2 separate regions of the Homo sapiens genome follow, and region 1 is linked to region 2. A link means that fine-mapping ties the variant in region 2 to the expression of a gene that starts in the linked region. Tissue or cell type: whole blood. Region 2 holds a variant in brackets; the other region holds the start of a gene. All regions are shown on one strand. Distances are between the middles of the regions.

The links. PIP is the estimated chance that this variant, and not a neighbour inherited with it, causes the effect.
Region 1: ACSL5 starts here. The variant in region 2 is fine-mapped to the expression of ACSL5 in whole blood (TOPMed, PIP above 0.99).

What each region holds. Positions count from the first base shown.
Region 1 is chr10:112,373,113-112,375,881 of GRCh38, reverse strand. It overlaps ACSL5 (acyl-CoA synthetase long chain family member 5), which reads right to left and starts at 1,766. Exons shown (of 21, transcript NM_203379.2): 1 at 1,613-1,766. RefSeq lists enhancers at 1-34, 1-65.
Region 2 is chr10:112,432,114-112,434,882 of GRCh38, reverse strand. It overlaps ZDHHC6 (zDHHC palmitoyltransferase 6), which reads left to right. Exons shown (of 11, transcript NM_022494.3): 7 at 419-586; 8 at 1,602-1,643; 9 at 2,362-2,507; 10 at 2,597-2,643. Among named protein-coding and RNA genes, the nearest start is that of ZDHHC6, 13 kb to the left of the region's middle. The variant T/A (reference allele first, on the strand shown) is at 1,510.

The DNA.
Region 1 (2,769 bases), 59 kb after region 2:
CAAACACCTTCTACCCCGCCTCTCTCCAGTCGCCAGAGCTGCCTGCCTTGGTCTCTGAAGAAGTTCTGGCAAAGCCAAGAAAATAAGCAAGTCAGGAACGACAGGGCTGTGAGTCGTTCAATTGGCATGGTTTCTTTCCCTCTGATACAGTCACACCTCAAAACTTAACTTAAAAATCGATTCTTTCGCCTTGGTCACCCCCAGTATTACCAGGACCTGTATTAGTCTCATTTTTGATCCGCCTAAGGCTGTGGCTACAGGGGGGCCCTGGAGCTACCATTCTCAGATTAGGAAGCCGAAATGACAAATTTTCCTGCCCCTTCCCCACCTCACAGATACCTCAGAATGAAGCAGCACTTTCTCCAGCCTCGATCCCCCACGAAGGCTCACAGGAAGTTCAGCATGATCCTGGCTCTTTGCTGGAGCTAGATTAGGGTTTGTTCTTTCTACAGAGCAGTTCTTAAAAGCTTCCTACTAAGGAAGCCAGGGTGAGCTGTGCCACAGTCTCAGAGAACACAAGAGCTGAGCCCTTGGCCTCTGGGGAGCCGCCTTTGGACATGGAAGAAAGATGAAGGGCTGGGAGACGAAGTGGGGCCTGTGGCATTCCATCCTCTGGCTCATCTCACGGCTGGAGGAGCACTTGTCATTTGCTTAGTTTCAGGAACTCAGCTCCCCAAGAGGCAACTTCCTCTAGAGGAGAGCAGAGGATGGCAGAGTGGGTGTCGAATCTCAGCCACACTAATACCTCTGAGCCCTTCACCGGGTGCTGTCTTCCTTCACCAAAGGGCTCAGGGCCAGGGGAAGATGAGGTTTTATTTCTTTTTTTTTTATTGACCTCCTCCAGTAAAAATGCTCAAGTTCAGGAAGGTTGAGTCATTCTAAAGGCCCATCAGAGTTGTATTCCTATCAATCCTCTGTGCACATGAGTGACACCCTCAGGATTTCAGGGGGTAACTGAAAGCTTTGGCAACCCACAACAATTCTGCATTATTGGGCAGGCTGTGGAAACTGACCAATCAAGTCTCAAATTCTAGCCACACCACCTTGGAGCTATGTAGCTTAGGCCATGCTGTTTAACAGCCTGGAGACGCACTATGCCTCTGTGAAATGGGAAGGATACCACCTGCTTTATAGGATGAGATACACCAATGAAGTAACATACATAATCTACCCAGAACAGTCCCCAGCACCTAATCGAATATCTGCTGATTCCCTTCCTCTCTGTCTGCCAAATGGGACTCTCTGCCCTCAGCAGCTGACGCACGATCCTTCTAACTACACTGAGACAGAAATTTCTTAATGGAAGATGAAGGAGACCCACATTCTGGCTTGGTGTGCTTTAGTACACTTACCAAAATCAGTGTTCCCTTCCAATTCCATCCCCTGCTAGCATTTGGATAGCTCATATATCTCCACCCCTTTTCCAACTGATTTTTTTCTTTGCCTCCCACACAAGTCAGCTGAGATTACTATTCAACTAAATGTAATTTCATGTTATTAAAGAGCCTTAGGTTGAGCATAACAAATCCCACTTTCTTTCCCCACACCAATCCCCTCCCTACTATCTCACAGATATATTCAATATAGTGCAGGTAGTATCATTGCAGCTTACCTTGGAAGAAGACTCTCCCTTCCTGGGTCCAGGAAGTGCTCCCCTCACAGCTGGCTGTATTGATTCAGCACCACATTCAGGCACTTCTACTCTTTCCACAGCTCCTAGGACTGACTGGGACACACCCGAAGCTACTGTGTACTGTCCTGAGAGTGGCCAACACACTCCCCTGGAACCTTTGAATCTGTCACAACAGAAGTTCAAAGGTAGAAGTTACCTGTTCAAACACTTGTAGTAACCTCTGACAGTAAGAAAAGCAGTGTTGGGCAAAAGATTAAAACAAGAGATTGTTATGCAATGGGCTTAAGCGGGAAAAAAAAAAAAGACGGCCCTTAGTTCAGAAAGCTAACGTTTACCAAGAGAAACCTTCGATAAAGCTCTACCTCAGGGGAAGGAGAAGGGGTAGACAGGGCTTTGCATCTGCTTTGGGGGCACAATCCTTGAGACTGTGATAGGAAGAGGAAGGTCTAGATTACTAGAAGAAAAAGGGCTCCTTGAGATCAGAGTGAGAGAAAAATGAGAAGCCACTTTAATTGGCTCAAGCTATAACTTTAGGATTCAGACTAAGCAGAGGTGTGCATTTGCAGACCAGCTATCTTCTAGAAGGGACCACTGCCCCCTTCAGAATTAGAACGTCTCCAAGACAACCAAATGAGCCAAATCAGTCTAGAGTCTAGGCTGAGAGACAAGCCTAGGACGGTTGTTTTTAGGATTCGGAATCACGAACACAGTCTGCAGCACACATAGTTTAGCAAGGCGCTAGAATAGGAAGCATTGCTTCCTGGCTAACACGGTGAAACCCCGTCTCTACTGAATACACAAAAAATTAGCCGGGCGTGGTGGTGGGCCCCTGTAGTCCCAGCTACTTGGGAGGCTGAGGCAGGAGAATGGTGTGAACCCGGGAGGTGGAGCTTGCAGTGAGCCAAGATCGCGCCACTGCACTCCAGCCTGGGCGACACAGCGAGACTCTGTCTCAAAAAAAAAAAAAAAAAAAGAAGCATTGCTACTGCGTCATGGCTCAGCCATCCTACTCTCTCCTTTTTTTTTTTTTTTTTTTTTTTTGAGACGGAGTCTCACCGCAACCTCCACTTCCTGAGTTCAAGCAATTCTCCTGCCTCAGCCTCTGGAGTGGCTGGGATTACAGGCATGCACCACAA
Region 2 (2,769 bases):
TATCTTGAATAAAACGGTTCCATCCTGAATAAACCTTTACCTTTCTCCTGAATCTGTTTATCTGCATCCCTTCTATATACCTGAATTGTTTTGTATTGCTGAACAACTAGGAGCATTGAGGACTTTTTATGTATGAGATAAAGTTAGCTAACTTTTAATAAGCCTTTATGAGTGCTTATTCCTAAAGAAACCCTGTCAGATATTTCCTAGGTAATCACATACAAGGCTGGTGTTCTATATCAAGTTCTTCCTATATTGTGATGAAGTTGTCTATTGCTTCCATGTACACTAATATTACAGCAAGGAGGAAGTATTTTTATGAATGTTAGAAACTTGAGAAATAAGTGTTCTCAATAACATATTACTGCAGGCCACTTAGACAGAGGCACCTGCCATCTTATATCTTTGTTACCCACAGGCTAAAGATCGAATTCAGTATTATCAACTAGATGAAGTCTTTGTTTTTCCATATGATATGGGAAGTAGATGGAGGAACTTTAAACAGGTATTTACGTGGTCAGGGGTCCCTGAAGGAGATGGACTTGAGTGGCCAGTAAGAGAAGGCTGTCACCAATACAGCTTAACAGTGAGTATTTTTGTTCAAATAGCCCTTCCTTTTTGCCTCGCCTTCTTTCCCTTAACTCCCCCTCAACTCAAGTGACATTTTGTAGTAAAATAAGTAATATGAATGTTTTCACTATGTCAAAATGAATCTAATAATTCTAAAGCACTCCTTGTATCATGTATCTCCCTTTATTTCAATATCTCCTTAATTCTCTATACCTGTGAGATAAAGTCCTGATCCCTTAACATAGTTTTATGAAATCTGGCCAAAAATTACCTTCCAACTTACAGTAGCATATGAATTCCTTATACATTCCTGTCACCCAACTTTGCCCACAATTTTTTCCATCTTATATGACCTCCACTCTATCTAAAATTATTAAGACTCGTTCCAGTCTTACCTCTTCCATAAAGTCTAACCTACCCCCATAGACTCATCTGAATGTGACATTTAATCACATACTACTCTATGGTAGCTCATGAAGTCTCATATTTTTATTTAATTCTGCTATCTTATATCTGTAACTTCATAAGATTCTAGGACAGAGATCATGAGTTATCTTTATTTCTCCTATTATATCTAATATAGTGCTATTTAATAGTAGCTATGTCAAATTAAGTTATGATGACTTTTATTCATTCAACTTCATTATTAAATGTTCTTCATTATTCATTTGTAGTTTGTCTGCCATGTCTCTACAGAATCAGTGAATCTCAGTGTTTTCACCTGAGAAGCTTCATGAGGGCGGAGAATATACTCCCTGATCCCTGGGCCACAGTAAGCACTCTAGGAATATACACAGATGAGGACATTAGAGAGTGAATAGCGAGAAGAAAACCTCACTCTCAGCCTCTGGTTCTTAGCATAGGGCCTTTTTTTCCATGCTAAAACAACCTGTGGCCTTTAAATTATCAGCAACTTGAAATGCTGGAAAATTGGGGTTT[T/A]GCCATATCACTCTGACAGTTGATGAGGAAAGGCGATTTTTCAACATTGAGACAAGAGACTTCATTTTTTTCTTTTTATTTCTTCCAAACAGATAGAACAGTTGAAACAAAAAGCAGATAAGAGAGTCAGAAGTGTAAGTACTTCTTTTGCAGTGGTAATTTTTTTTTCTTTTGTTAGGCTCTGTACTTCCATACAGTTTTTTTAATTGACTGACTAGAAACCAATTGTTGGCCTTTATTAAATAGTATTCCTTAATACATTTGTTGAAATTTGATGCAGTTAACTTTTGTTTTTATTTAAATAATTGGGACTAGAGGTTGGGAGGAATTTAGTCCATTTATATTGCCAACATAGGAAAATAATTATCCTCAATACAGCTCCTTAATGTGAAACCTATCCTTACAACTATGTTGTTGGATATGATGGCCACCAGCCACATGTGGCTGTTTTATTTAAATTTGTTAAAATTAAATCAATTTAAAAATTCAGTTTCTTGTTTGCATTCACTACATTGTAAGTGCTCACTCAGTAGCTACATGTGTCAAGTGCTGCTGCATTGGATACTACACATACAGAACATTTCCATCATGGCAGAATGTTCTTAGCCCTGCTCTAACTCTAATTCTTAGCTATGGGCTTGAAAAGAGGAGTAAGAAAAGCCTTGAGAACTAGAAACATTAGTTGCCTCCCAGGGAACTAGGTGGATGGGGAACTGGGAGGTTCCCCTAGAAGGGGAACTAGAAGGCTTGTCACTGGATATTTTGGATCTTGCTTTAAAATTTGAAATTCAGACTTAAAACTCAGATATCATGGGTGAATATTTAAAGGTTTCTTCTGATCACTGACGACAGGTTCGCTATAAAGTAATAGAAGATTATAGTGGTGCCTGCTGCCCTCTGAATAAAGGAATCAAAACCTTCTTCACAAGTCCCTGCACCGAAGAGCCTCGAATACAGCTGCAAAAAGGGGAATTCATTTTAGCCACAAGAGGTTTACGGTAAGTAATAGGAAGTACTGCATTTCTTCTTCAAGGACAAAATTAATATCTAGCCTAAAAAATTAATTTTCATCTTTTAAATATTTCAGATACTGGTTATATGGAGACAAAATTCTTGATGATTCCTTTATAGAAGGTATGGAAATGGAAGGGCATGTTTAAAGGACAAGACTATTAGCAATAATTCCAAATTTTACAAGAATAACTTTTATAAACCAATCATGCCTAATGCATTAGGGGAACTGCATAGAAGGGTATATCA